Homo sapiens: one gene and its partner. The protein of the gene in region 1 interacts with the protein of each later gene in a pairwise test. Each region holds a gene or a part of one and is shown on either strand. Other genes may lie near its edges.

Region 1 (7,836 bases):
AATCCATTCCATGAGGTGTAATGAGTTAAGATGAATTTTTCCCTAAGCTCTGGGGCAGTGTCTGTTATTATTATTTTGAGATGGGGTTTCACTCTGTCGCCTAGGCTGGAGTGCAGTGGTACAATCTCAGCTCACTGCATCCTCCACCTCCCAGGCTCAAGTGATCCTCTCACCTCAGCCTCCTGAGTAGCTGGGATTACAGGTGCTCGGCAGCTCACCCGGCTAATTTTTGTATTTTTTGTAGAGATGAGGTTTCGCCATGTTGCCCAGGCTGGTCTTGAACTCCTGAGCTCAAGAAATCTGCCTGCCTCAGCCTCCCAAAGCACTGGGACTATAAGTGTGAGCCATCGCATCTGGCTTGTTATTATTTTTTTAGACTGCTGCTGTAATTCCTAGAAGAAACTGCTTCTCTAGCATTCGCTAAATCCACTTCCTTAAGTGTTTGCTGGGCACCTGCTCAGTGCACTAGGGCACCTCGGTTCCTTTAGGGGACAACAGAGCCCTGTCCTCGGGGAACTGGAGGTACACCCAAAGGCAAGTACTGAAAACAGTGCTCTGCAACATCTGCCCCAAGGGCTGGCCAGGCCAGAGGCCTGAGGATGTCCTGGCTGTTAACTGTAACCTCACCTGGACTCTGTGCCCACCTGTTGCCTCATCCTTGCTTGACAGATGAAGAAACTGAGGCTCAGTGGGGTTTTGTGCTGTGCTCATACACAGGGGAGCTCAGATTCTAGTCAGAGCAGGCTGATTCCAGACCCTGTGTTTTTTGTTTTTTTGTTTTTTTTTTTTTGAGACGGAGCTTCACTCTTGATGCCCAGGCTGGAGTGCAATGGCGGGATCTCGGCTTACCGCAACCTCTGCCTCCCGGGTTCAAGCGATTCTCCTGCCTCAGCCTCCTGAGTAGCTGAGATTACAGGCATGTGCCACCAAGCCAGCTAATTTTGTATTTTTAGTAGAGACAGGGTTTCCCCATGTTGGTCAGGCTGGTCTCGAACTCCCGACCTCAGGTGATCTGCCTGCCTCGGCCTCCCAAAGTGCTGGGATTACAGGTGTGAGCCACCGGGCCCGGCAAGCCTGTGTTCTTTACTACCCTACAGCTCCATTCCCTCAAAGTCTCCCACTCCTCTCCTGAGACCCTCCTTCCTTCCCTCCCTTTCTGCGTCCCCTGACCCCTGCAAGCCTCACCTCGCAGCCAGCGCAGGAGGAAGTAGTCATCAGCATTGGGCAGTATGGGCAGCAGGTCCTGGAGGTTCTCCCGGAACTGAGCGGAGGAGGATCTGATGGTCGGCGGAGCTCTCATGACCTCGGGGGCCACCAACCCCGCCCCTAACCCTTCCCACATCATCCACCAGTCAACTCCACCAGAAGACCATGCAGGGTGCTGCCCTGAACGACTTTGCCATCTGAAAATAGGGCACCCTCCAGCCCAACATAGGAAAAAGAGTTGGGTCCTTCCCAAAATTTGGGAGTGCCCTACACACTGGACTCCCATTCTACATGTCTAAGGTGGGGCCCTGGCATCCTTATTTTTAATTTTTATTTTATTATTATTTTTATATTATTATTATTATTATTATTATTATTGAAACAGGATCTCACTCTATCGCCCAAGCTGGAGCGTAGTTGCGTGATCTTGGCTCACTGCAACCCGTGCCTCCCGGGTTCAATAGATCCTCCCAGCTCAGACTCCCAAGTAGCTGGGACCACAGGCACACAAGATGCCCAGCTAATTTTTGTACTTTTTGTAGAGATGGGATCTTGCTATGTTGCCCAGGCTGGTCTCAAACTCCTTGGCTCAAACAATCCACCCGCCTTAGTATCCCAAAGTGCTGGGATCACAGGCGTGAGCCACCATGCCCGACTGACAGCCTTATTTCTACAAGGATCCCTGGGAGAGTCTGATGCAGGCCAGCTAGGCGGTTTTAGGAATGTTGTCCCTGATACTGCATCTTGAGGGTTTAGATTTAGAGGCAAGTTACCAAACCTCTCTAAGCCTCAGTTTCCTTATCTCTGAAATGGGGATAAAAATAAACTTGTACCAATCAAAGGAGTCTGTGCACGTAAAACACTTAGCAGGCTTGGCTCCGAGCAGGTGTCAGATATATGTGAGCACTCAGCCAGCGTGGACTGCCTGATGCCCCGGACAATGGAGGCTTTGTGGAAAAAAAACAGAGGCAGAGGTCAACAGACAGGGGCTGAAAGAGAAGCCAGGAATGCCTTATCAGGGCATCTGTTGCGTCTGAGAGAGAGGAGATCTCACTTCCCTGGGGACCAACAGAGCTGAAGGCAAAGGCTGGGTTTGAAGGTGAATCTGTGAATCCAAATTTGGGATTAGAAATATGAGGCCGGGCGCAGTGGCTCACACCTGTAATCCCAGCACTTTGGGAGGCCAAGGCGGATGGATCACAAGGTCAGGAGTTCGAGACCAGCCTGTCCAAGAGACCTGCCTGGCCAATATGGTGAAACCCCGTCTCTACTAAAAATACAAAAATTAGTCGGGTGTGGTGGCGGGCACCTGTAGCCCCAGCTACTTGGGAGGCTGAGGCAGGAGAATCGCTTGAACTCAGGAGGTGGAGGTTGCAGTGAACCGAGATTGCGCCATTACACTCCAGCCTGGACGACAGAGCAAGACTCCATCTCAAAAAAAAAAAAAAAAAAGATTACAGAGAAGCTTGGGCCCTAAGAACAAATCACAAAGAGAAGCCAAACAAACAAATGTTGCAACCTGGACATGAAAAGCAGTCTGTCTACCCAAGGCTGCCCCCGCAGCCGGATGGCAGCGCCACTCCCTCCCCCACAACCGGGGAACAAGGACCAGGGCCGGGTGGTGGAGAGCACGCAAGGTCAGAAGACTGGATTCGGCTCCTGGTCACGCAGAGATGGGCCCCTGTCCCGCGTGCTGCACGTAGCCGCCTCAACAACCGCACGCTGGACCAGAGGGCAGAACAGAGGCGCTCTCTCCAGGCTCGGTGTTCCAGTCTGTACCATGGGGGCTCCAGCCGGGTTGGGCAGTGCCAGGCTGCTCAGGGCCCCTCCTCAAGCCTCCCAGCCCGCGATGCTCCTCACCCTGGCCAGCGCTTCCTGCTGCTGGGGGCTCAGGTCCCCGACTCGGCTGCTCATGGTGCCCGCGGGCGCAGAAAGGCTCAGGGCGCAGGTCCGCCCGCCCGCCGCCGCCTGGCCTTGTATCCGCTGCCGCCTGGTTGTGCCTCCTGGGCCAGATGTTGGTCCCGCCCCGACGGGAGAGGCACTGGGCCTGCCCCGCCCCGCCCAGTTCTCTCCTCCTCTCCAGGATTTTTTGCTGCGGTCACCAAGCGCACCCTACTTGGGACAGGGAGGTGACCTGCCGGGAGAGTGGCCTGGGGCAGCTGGAGGCAGCCACCTCCAGGCCTCCTTACTGCGGGGGCTCCCGCCTGTTCGCAGGTGGCAGGAAAGGGAATACACTGAGATCCTCTTTCCAGCAAAATGGAGGAAATTTTTTTTTAAATGTTTTTTTTTTTTTGGGCCAGGCGCGGTGGCTCACGCCTGTAATCCCAGCACTTTGGGAGGCCGAGGCGGGCGGATCACGAGGTCAGGAGGAGATCGAGACCATCCTGGCTAACATGGTGAAAACCCGTCTCTACTGAAAATACAAAAAATTAGCTGGGCGTGGTGGCGGGCGCCTGTAGTCCCAGCTACTCGGGAGGCTGAGGCAGGAGAATGGCGTGAACCCGGGAAGCGGAGCTTGCAGTGAGCCGAGATCGCGCCACTGCACTCCAGCCTGGGTGACAGAGTGAGACTCCGTCTCAAAAAAAAAAAAAATTTTTTTTTTCTTTTTCTTATTTTGAATAAAATAGAGACCGGGTTTTGCTATGCTGACCAGGCTGGTCTGGACCTCCTGGCCTCAAGCAATCCTCCAACCTCCGCCACCCAAAGTGCTGGGATTAGGGATGTGAACCACCATACCTGGCCAACATGGAGGAATTTTTAATAAACCTGGCTCAACCCTCTAGGACCCCCAGGGCTTTTGTCTAATGACCCCCAAGCTCCTTCCCCTGACCTTGAACACAGCCTGGGACCTGTCAGTGCTCACTGACTGATAGGACAGCCTCATGTGCAAAATGGTTCCTGCCCTCAAGATGGTTGGAAGGATAAGAGGACGCACCCTGGGTCAGCAGAATGTCTGGCGTTGCCTGCTCAGTAAGTGCTGGCTGGTAGGAATATATTTCAGAATTGTGTTATTACTGAGGCTGTCACCAGAGCTGGGAGCTGCAGGGGTGGAGATCCTAGGGTGTCCCAAGTGCGGAGCTCCTGGGTGAGAGCCACAGTCTGAAGGTGGAGGCATGCAAGGTGCCAGCCGTGGACCAATGGAAGCCCTGGGCAGAGTGACAGAGTGGGCGGAGAGCCAAAAGGCCACTCTGGCTGACACAAGAGAGCCAGGCGGAGATCACTAGGAAAAGCAAGAAAAAAGTTCAGCCAGGCGCGGTGGCTCATGCTTGCAATCCTGGCACCTGGCACTTTGGGAGGCCAAGGCAGGCGGATCACTTGAGGTCAGGAGTTTGAGACCATCCTGGCCAACATGGTGAAACCCTGTCTCTACTAAAAATACAAAAATTAGCTGGGTGTGGTCGTCCACGCCTGTAGTTCCAGCTACTCAGGAGGCTGAGGCACAAGAATTGCTTGAACCTGGGAGGTTGAGGGTGCAATGAGCCAAGATGGCACCACTGCATTCCAGCCTGGGCGACAGAGCCAGATTCTGTCTCAAAAAAAGAAAACAGAAGTTGGCTGGGTGTGAATTTTCAAGAGAGGAGTAGAGGGGACGTGAAGATGAAGGAGAGAGTAAAACAGGCCACAAGACCCTGTTCCCTCTGTCCTCCCATGGAATCAAACCAAGCTCTAGTCCCGAAAGGACTAACCCAGTGGCCGTGAGCCACAGAGGCTTTTGAGCCCAGACAACGTGGCTTGTCATAACAAGCATAGAGACATGCTGTAATTGTAAAATACAAACCAAGTTTTGATGGCTTAGTACCAGAAAAAGTAAAATGTTTCATTAACTAATTTTATTTATTTATGTACTGAGACAGCATCTCACTCTGTCACCCAGGTTGGAGTGCAGTGGTGCAATCATGGCTCACTGCAGCCTTGACCTCACGGGCTCAAGTGATCCTCCCACCTCAGCCTCCTGAGTAGCTGGGACTACATTCTCACCCCACCACACCCGGCTAATTTATTTTTATTTTTATTTTTATTTTTTTATAGACACAGGGTTTTGCTATGTTAGCCAGGCTGGTCTCAAACTCCTGAGCTCAAGCCATCCATCTGCTTCAGCCTCCCAAATTGCTGGTATTACAAGCGTGTGCCACTGCTCCTAGCCTCATTAATTAATTTTATATAAATGATTATATATTAAGTGATATTTTTGAATATAATAGGACAATAAAATATGTTATTAATATTACTTTCACCTGTTTCTTTTGATGTTTTAATAATTTTGAATTATTTATAATGATAATTTTTTTTCTTTTTTTAAGACAGGGTCTCAATGTGTCACCCAGGCTGGAGTGCAGTGGCAAAATCTCCGCTCACTGCAAGCTCCACCGCCCCCCACCCCTGAAGCTCAAGCAGTGCTCCCACCTCAGCCTCCCCAGTAGCAGGGACTGCAGATGTGCATCTCCACATCCGGCTAATTTTTGTATTTTTTTGAAGAAAAATACAAAACATGGTTTTGCCATGCTGCCTAGGCTGGTCTCAAACTCCCGAGCTCAAGCGATCCTCCCGCCTCAGCCTCCCAAAGTCCTGGGATTATAGGCATGAGCCACAGTGCCCAGCTAAATTGTTATTTTTTAGGACAGTTTTAAGTTCACATCAAAACTGGGCAGAAAGTACAGAGTTCCCACATATCTGCTGTCCCCATACACACACAACCTCTGGTTCCAGAGATATCCATTTGCTGAAATTGATGAGCCTACACTGACACGCTAATATCACCCAAAGTTCCTAGTTTACATTAGGGCTCATTCTTGGTGTTGGATATTCTATGGGTTTTGACAAATGTATAATGACATGTGTCCACCATTGTGGTATCACGCAGAATAGTTTCACTGCCCTAAAAATCCTCTGTGCTCCTACCTATCCTTTTTACTTAAAAAAAAAAAAAATGTAGCCACTGGGGCTGGGCGTGGTGGCTCACGTCTGTAATCCCAGCACTTTGGGAGGCTAAGGCGGGTGGATCACCTGAGGTCAGGAGTTTGAGACCAGCCTGGCCAACACGGCGAAACCCTGTCTCTACTAAAACTACAAAGATTACCTGGGCATGGTGGTGCACGTCTGTAATCCCAGCTACTCGGGAGGCTGAGGTAGGAGAATCACTGAACCCGGGAGGCGGAGGTTCCGGTGATCTGAGATTGCGCCATCACATTCTAGCCTGGGAGACAGAGCAAGACTCCATCTCAAAAAAAAAAAAGTAGCCACTGGAAAGATTTAAAATTACACGTATGGGCTGGGCATGGTGGCTCACACCTGTAATCCCAGCACTTTGAGAGGCTGAGGTGGGCGGATCGCTTGAGCCCAGCAGTTTGAGACCAGCCTGGGTAACATAGTAAAACCCCGTCTCTACTAAAAACACAAAAATTTGCCAGGCATGATGCTGTGCGCATGTAATCCCAGCTACTCAGGAGGCTGAGACAGGAGAATCACTTGAACCCAGGAGGCAGAGACGGGGGTTGCAGTGAGCTGAGATCATGCCACTGCACTCCAGCCTGGGTGACAGAGTGAGATTCGGTCTCAAAAAATAATAATAATAATAAATAAAATAAAATTACATTTATGGATCACATTTATGACTTGCATTATATTTAATTTGAACATTGTTTGCCCTATAGAGATTTAAAATATGTTTTTAGAAAAAGAAAGTAAATCATAAAAAATGCTAAAAGAAAGTAAAAGTGACACCACATCTCTGGAAGGGCATGGTCTGTGTTTAAAAACAATGACAGAATCACAAAGGGAAAATGAATTGATTTGACTACAAAATACAAAAATCTATTAAACAAGAAACAGAATTAAGACATTTATCAGAGTCGGGCGCTGTGGCTCACGCTTGTAATCCCAAACTTTGGGAGACTGAGGCGGGCGGATCAGGAGATCAGGAGTTCAAGACCAGCCTGGCCAACACAGTGAAACCCCGTCTCTACGAAAAATACAAAAATCAGCTGCGCATGGTGGTAGGTGCCTATAATCCCAGCTACTCGGGAGGCTGAGACAGGAGAATCACTTGAACCTGGGAGGCAGAGGTTGCAGTGAGCTGAGATCATGCCACTGCACTCCAGCCTGGACGACAGAGCTAGACTCCATCTCAAAAAAAAAAAAAAAAAGACATTTGTCAGTATTTGCTGATGGAAATTTGGGAAAAATAAAATGTACAAAAATTCAAGTTGATAAGAAAAATAGGAAGGCCCTAAGAAATAAATGGGCAAAGGATTCAAAGCACCAATTCTTAGGAATGAAAATGCTCAGGGTGTATTTATCAAGTGGATGAATGCCCAATCTCCAGAGTCATCAATGAAATGTGTATTCAAGTAATGAGATGCATTTTTCTCTGAAAAATCAGCAAAAACAAACAACACACACACACAGACACACACACACCTTTTAAGAAAAAACTACAAAATTAGCTGGGTGTGGTGGGGTGAGACTGTAGTCCCAGCTACTCAGATAATAGGCCAGGCACAGTGGCTAACACTTGTGATCCCAGTACTTTGGGAAGATCTCTTGAAGCCAAGAGTTCGAGACCAGTCCAGGCAACATAGTGGGACCTCGTCTCTACAAAAAATTAAAAAACTAGCCAGGCGTGGTGGCATG
Region 2 (7,265 bases), on another chromosome or scaffold:
TTGTGTGCTCTGGTCATGGAACATGACCTCTTGGCTGCCAGACATGGATCAAAAGGCAAACCAGTCATTTTTCTTTAACCTTCTTTCTTTGTGTCTCCCTTAGTCCCCTCCTCCCATCACCCACTTTCCAAAAAAAAAAGCCAATTTCCATCCCATGGCAGGCCTTGGTGGGGAGGGAATGAACTCTCCGGAACTACAAGGCCCTTCTCCTGGAAGAGAGAGCAGTCAGGTGCAGAGTGTGTGGGGAACTCAGCCTCTAGTCTGCCACGCTGATGACTCAGAAGCTAAATATAGCGAGCGATATAAACAGAGCCAGCCACAGAGCAAACACAGGGCCCCCAGCCCCGGCGCTGGCTCTCACGCACTCTGGCTCTCCGCAGTCCCTCCCCCAGCCTCATTCTTCCCCTGGCACTGTCCTAGGTGGGCCTCCCACTCCTGGGACAGAGGCTGGCTTCCTAGGGACCCATCTCACTCTATAGCAAACCTCTGGGGCCCCTGCCCGGGGCTGTCCCATCTAGACGCTGAGCAACCTAGTTAGCCAGCTTAAGTTCCAGAAAACCACTCACTAATAACTAGAGAATCCCAAAGTGTCAGGAAGCAATCAGGGGCTCCCTGAACAAAGGATCCAGTCTGCTAGGCAGAGAAGCTGCTAGTTAATAAACCATGCAAACACCAACTCGGGTACAACTTCCAAAAGAGCTCCCCAAATTACAAAGTCAGGTCCAAGCAAAATCCTAAAGTCATCTTTTAACATATTTCTAAAAGTACTCAACTGTCCCTGACTTAATAGTTATTTGTATCACAACTCCTAAAGGCCCTTCACATCAACTAGGCAAGGTAAGTATTAGAAACCAAGACTAAGCCGGGTGCAGTGGCTCACACCTGTAATCCCAGCACTTTGGGAGGCCGAGATGGGCGGATCGCCTGAGGTCGCGAGTTCAAGACAAGCCTGACCGACATGGAGAAACCCCGTCTCTACTAAAAATACAAAAATTAGCCAGGCATGGTGGTGCATGCCTGTAATTCCAGCTACTCAGGAGGCTGAGGCAGGACAATCACTTGAACCCGGAGGCAGAGGTTGCAGTGAGCCGAGATCGCACCACTGTACTCCAGCTTGGCAAGAAGAACGAAACGCTGTCTCACCAAAAAAAAAAAAAAAAAAAAAAGGCTTGGAGAGATTACATGATTTGCCCACGAACACATAACTTATAAGTGGCAGAGCTGGGATTTTAACAGATCTGCCTACAAGTCTAGGATCCTTTTTGTGATATTACAGCTAAAGATGGTTTCAACTGAGTGGCTGAAAGTTTTCTCAGATTTCATTTGCCAAAAAGTCTAATTACTATTCAGAGATTTCCAAACCCGGCTTTTCTGAATGGAGCCACTCCTGGTCCAAGTGAAAAAGCCATTTCCAACATGAAGAATTCCAACCCTCCTGTAGCTTTACTCACTCGACTGTTTACAGTAACTACTGTTTTTGAGGATTCTTGGCTTCTTAACATTGCCCAGAAATACCCCCAAATGTCATGATGGGCCACTGGGACAGAAGACTCTCCCAAGGGGAGGGGATACCACTTCCTGCCCCTCCTTAGGCTCGTGCTGAATGAGGCCATGGCACAAGGACAGGAAAGCTGGGGCTCAGACCTTCTGGCCAGGGCAGCCCAGGGGCTCAGGGAGGAAGTACATCTGCACCATGCTCTTCCATGCAGAAGCTGGACACAGAAGCACCACAGCACCACCCTCAAGATAAGTCATTATCAGCAGACCATCGGGGGTCCCTGCCACAGTTTGTCAGCTCACAGAGGAGCAAACAGGGGAACCTTCACTCCTGCCCCGGCCAAAGGAAGGTGGGATGTGTGGTGAGGTTCTGAAAGGTTTTTACCTCCACTCACTCTGCCTCCAACTCTCTTGCTGCTTTGGAGACACAAAGAGCTGAGGCGGAGCACCCTGCTAACTCTGATCTTCTGCCTCCGGTTTTTTGCCTGTGGATCTGGAAGAGTCACCCTGAACTGGTAACTCGGGTGACCAGGCTAGTCCTCCACCTAGCAAGGCTCTTGGGAAATGCGCTGAAAGTGCAGATGGCCCACGTAAAACGACACCCAGGGAAACTTGGAACCTGTTGCATCTGGAGCCAGGTCGATACACTCAATTGGGATTTCATGGCATCAGCACGCCCCCTCCCTCTGCTCCATACCTCCAAGGGAGAAGGTCGTTCTGGTGCAAAAAAACGAGTAACTCAGGTCTGTAACCAGGGACAAAAAGGGGGAGTGCACACTCTCCACAGGACTATGGACCAGTGGCCACTGTCTAGCCCCAGGACACTATCCCAGATGTAGGGGAAAGGTGACGGTCAGGCCTCCTCAAGTCCCATCTGCCTCTAGGGTTGCTTTTCTTGGCTCTCTAAATCCAGCCCGCAATGATGGGGAATGACTATCATTCCCTGAAGAGAAATCGATAAGGCCAAGGTCCACAGATGATCAGTCTGGACACTAATTCCTCTGGACCAGGCAGGTGGAGGGAAGTTCAGGGGAGGCAGCTCTGCTCAGGGAGTCCCCTGCCAGGTGGAGTGGGAAATGAATTGTGAACCAACAAGAACAAACGTCGGGGGTGATCAGGATCATAAACAGAAAGAAGGAAACAGGCATTAAAGAACATCTACTGTGTGTCCCAAACTCTCATAGGTATTTTCTCACTTAATTATCACAGTAAAATTCTGTGGTATTAGCACTAATTCATAGAAGAGGAAATAGGCTCAGTGAAGTCAAGTGACTTCCTGAAAACTAGTAGATGGCAGAGCTGGTATTCAAACCTGGGCTTTCTGACTCTGAACCCAAAGCCTAGAAACTAAATCCTAAATAACCTCCTTCCCACTGCCTCAGTTTCTCTGCCTGCAAAAATGAGGGAAGGGAATAGGGAAAGAAGATAAAGGATAAGAATGGAGGAGTGACAACAGTACTTTCTAGATATGAAATCTTAGACTGTAGTTTATATAAGAATCAAGCTTAGAAAATGACTCACTTCTCAAAACCAGCTGCTGAAACGTTCCAGGAGTACCAGTGTTCCACCTGCCTGAAGCCATCACCTTAGCCCTTCCTGCAGGATGAGTTCCTGGTGAAGGTCTATAAGTAGGGTCAGTGGGGAGGAGGGGGTTAAAAGCAAGAAGACTCTGGGGAGAACTGTTTAAGGAGAAGACAAAACCCTGGCTCTTTGTACTGGAAAATTTGGGAAAACCAGCTCTTTGAGCTAGAAAAGGCTCACTGGTCAGCCTCCTACCCTTGTAAGTAAGAAGTAGGTAGATGGCAGGAGGGTAGGGGTACAGGAAACCTGGGAGCCAGTGTGGAGTAAGGTGCAAGGCAGAGGAGACTCTCATGCCTTGCACCTCCACTTTCCTTCTCCCCAGCTTGGGTGGCTCTGGCTAAAAGCACAACACCTTGTCTAAAACTAACCTGTGCATGCAAAGAGGCAGCTCTGAACTGGGAGAAGTGATGCCAACCAGCAAAAAGCAGGGCAAGGCAGGCGCAGTGGCTCACGCCTGTAGTCCCAGCACTTTGGGAGGCCGAGGCAGGTGGATCATCTGAGGTCAGGAGTTCGAGACCAGCCTGGCTGACATGGCGAAACCCCGTCTCCACTAAAAGTACAAAAATTAGCCAGGTGTGGTGGTGCGTGCCTATAATCCCAGCTACTCGGGAGGCTGAGGCAGGAGAATCGCTTGAACTGGGGAGGCAGAGGTTGCAGTGAGCCGAGATCATGCCACTGCACTCCAGCCTGGGCGAAAGAGCCAAAAAAAAAAAAAAAAAAAAAAATCAGGGCCAGACCTTGGGATAAGGGCCTCCTCCTCCTCCTGTTCAGGACCAAGTTAGGAGGGCCCCCAGGACTGTATCCTAGTCCTGTGCCAGGGAGGGCTCCCGGCCTATTCCCAAGCCTATAGAGGCTCACCAGTGGATGGGGGAATATTCTGGGGAATAACTGGTGAAAGAGATCAGATTATTGCAAATGAAGCAAGCTGCCTTCCACGGAGCCCGCTAGATGAGTCTAAAAGAGCCACAGCCACTGTGTCCTCCCATCCTCTCCAGTACCAGGACTGGAAGCTGTGAGCTGGGCTCAGCCGTAGGCCTGTACAACCACGGTGGAGTGAATGGGCAGGAAGGAGGCCAAGAAACTGAAAACAAGAATCAGAGTGAGTCCACACATGGACTGAAGGGGAAACTCGAAGCCAAGTTTCCACCAAATAATCAAAGGAGAGAGTAAGAACTGGAGCTTAGATCTATTATCTAAGCATAGGGCCACCCTCCCTTCCTGATCACTAAGGGACTGGGAGGACTTACCAGGCCCAGACCTGGCCCCAAACTGTCCTTAGAACTCCTTGGCAGAGGGCACTAACCATATGTAACCCGCAATGTCCTGTTCTTAGGAAAGCCAAGGTCAATTCCTCTTCCCCTGGCACTGGTAATGGTTTGACCCTTAAGTCAACCTACCAATAGCTCTCCTCCGACCACCTGAAGCTACCCTTCTAACCTCGGAGTCTGCCCAGTCATGGTCAAGCTATTTATTCCCTTGATTTCCTCGCAGTCAGACACACAAACACACATTCAGAGCCAGCTGGGCTGGGGACACAGTCCCAGAAGTACAGAATGTGTTCGCTTCCAGGTGGCATGCCTGTGCTTCAGCTGTGGCTGTACCAGCACGGATGCAGCCTCAGGCTCCTCTCCCAGCCTTGGCAGCCATCCAGAAAGCCAGCCCGAAGAGGAAGGGTTAAGTGCCTGGGGACCCAGCCCAGACAGCGGCTGCTGGAACAGGGAAGGCAGCCTCCAGGCCATGGCACAGAGGGCTCCTCCAGCACGAGCCTGCCAGCCGCCGCCTTTGTTGATGGACTCTGCCACATGCTCGGCTGACACGTGATGCCCCGCCCTGGCGGGGCTGGTGCCAGGCTGCCGGCCAAGCGCCCGGCTGAGCGCCCGGCTGGCCGCCGGTCTGGGGAGCCTCTCCGAGGTACACTCTCCGGAGTCCCAGACCCTGGTTCCCAGACAGAGACAGTGAGGAGCGGCCTCCCCAGCTGGAAAGTGTCAGGTTTCAACCGGTTCCACCACTTTCCCCAACTCAGGCCCCATCCCTTGGCCTGGTTACCCGTTTCCCACTGTACCTTAGCCAGGCACCCCCCAACTGCCCAGTTTCATTGCAGCACCCGGAAAATCTTCCTCTTAGGTCCGTGAGGGGCAACCCCTCAGCCACGGCCATAAGAAGAGACAGGTTGTCAAGCAGAGCTGCAGAAAGCCATCCTATTCCCAGACTGTAGCCTCTCCCGAGAGGGCTCTTATGGAACATGAATTGAGACTGGGCAGTTAACCAATGTGGAGCTCAGAGATGAGGGCAAGATGCTTAGCCAGTTAGGCCCCTCCTGCCCATGGGAACCGCCATAACCAAAACTCTGGGACAATATCCTTGAGGTCTGGCAGAGACAGAGTTGCTGACAAGAGGAGAGAGGCAGGCCCTGGCCCCCAAGCCCCAGCAGACTCAACCCTCCTCCCCTAAACCCCCGTGCCTACTTGCTGCACATGAAGCCGGTGGAACTGGTCTGCAATGCACTGAAGCTTTCGGGCAATCTGTACCTCTGCTTGATGTTGCCACTGCCCTTCGGGGGGCTGCTCCCCAATGGGCAAGACTGCTGGGAAACTGGCAGGGAGAGGAAGCCGATAGCCAGCATTGCCTGCAAAGATAGAGGATCCACATCTCAGCATTCTCCACAACTGCTCCAACCTCCCTACGCCTGCCTGACCTGGCCAAGATTGGAGGCTGAGGGTAAATCCTCATATGAGAAAGGATAGGAGCCAGCCTGCCTCTATTGGAGCACTCTGCCAAGCTTGGACAGCCTGCTGCCCAAGTGCATAAAAGTTGCAGAACAGAAAGAATGGCCCCAGCCTTCTCTTCGCTTCTCCATTCACTGACAGTGCCATGACAAAGGGCAGGTGGTAACGTGTGCAGGCGAACATGCCAGCCTTCCGTCCTTATTTATCAAGCTACCCTTAACCACAGTTGGTTATTCACGTAGTAGCAGGTTGAAGCTCTTCTCTGGAAAAGCACTGGAGGTAGCTCTCCAGTTTCTGGGTTGAGCAAAGTAAGAGGCAGAGCAAGAAAAAATCAAAAAGTGTCTTCACTTTTTTAGTGCAGTAGAGTAAGGCTGGTCTCCCGAAGCTCCTGGGCAGCAGCACAAAAAGAGGGAGAGAAAACTGAGACGCACAGAGCTGCCAAGTTGCTCTCCGGAGACAGCCCCAGGCAAGACCTCTAGACCAGCGCTCCACACTTACCCAGTGCACGCGTTAGAACCACCGCTAGGGGCGCCAGTCCGCCGGGCTCCTCGCTCCTTTCCCTCTTCCCCGCCTGCCCGCCTTATCCAACTTCTCAGACTCCCGCCAGAACTGCTTTGCCAGAACTGCCCTAAGGGGCAGTTCCCTCTGGGAGTAACTGCAGTGTCTCCTCAATCAGCTCGTCAGACACAGTAAGCCACGCTCCTAGCCTTTACCCTCCCTCCATAAGCTGCAGTGCTAATAGAAGAAAACAGACTGTCTAACCCTGCCCTTTTGCCAGAGGAGGGCATATTTCTCATAAAACAAACTATTTAAGCCCACAAATGAAGGGGTCTTGTCTTAGCCTTGGAAGCATCCCCTCTCCTGGCATTGGGCCCAGGCAGGCCCAACCTCTTTCTCCAGTTCCCCTTTCACACACAGAAAGTCCCATGTGGCAACTGGGGGCCACCTTCTGCCTTTGGGAACCCTCCCTCCCAGAACCGGCTGGGTTTTTCCCTTCATTGTCAACAGCCAGTCACAGATCCCCCAGACTTCTCCAGGGCAACAGGAGCCACTTTATAGTAGGCAAGTCACTGCTAGGACACTAAAGGCCAGGCCACTCAAGGGGCACAAGATGTAAAAGGAGATACCATGGACCCAAGGATCCCTCCAGGAGGGGACAATTTGCCCTTTGGGGGGTCTGAGGCACAGGTGAGGAGCAATAACAAGCCGAGAGGCAGCAGGTGGAAGTCAAGGAATCAACAGCCCCGCTGATCACTTTGGGGGAAGGAAACAGCAAAGGGCAGGTTTGGGGAGGGAAAGTCCCCTCTTTTCCCCCAGTCTCTATGGGAGGAGTCTTGAGGCTGAGAGCACTCACCATAAAAGAGTCGCTGGGGTTCCTCAGTCACCCCACAAGGCAGCATGACACCTTGGCTGGGGGAGGCTGGGCTGAGAGTCTGGGTAGCTTTGTCTTCCTGGCTGGTG

The links.
Region 2: the proteins of SEC14L4 (region 1) and BMF interact in binary tests that used the Homo sapiens proteins (3 or more experiments, as listed by UniProt).

What each region holds. Positions count from the first base shown.
Region 1 is NC_000022.11:30,502,492-30,510,327, forward strand, and holds the start of SEC14L4 (SEC14-like protein 4), read right to left. Parts: upstream 3,205-7,836; 5' UTR 3,121-3,204; coding exon 3,067-3,120; intron 1,262-3,066; coding exon 1,186-1,261; intron 1-1,185. UniProt on the Homo sapiens protein: Probable hydrophobic ligand-binding protein; may play a role in the transport of hydrophobic ligands like tocopherol, squalene and phospholipids.
Region 2 is NC_000015.10:40,098,637-40,105,901, forward strand, and holds part of BMF (bcl-2-modifying factor), read right to left. Parts: coding exon 7,159-7,265; intron 5,705-7,158; coding exon 5,544-5,704; intron 1-5,543. UniProt on the Homo sapiens protein: May play a role in apoptosis. Isoform 1 seems to be the main initiator.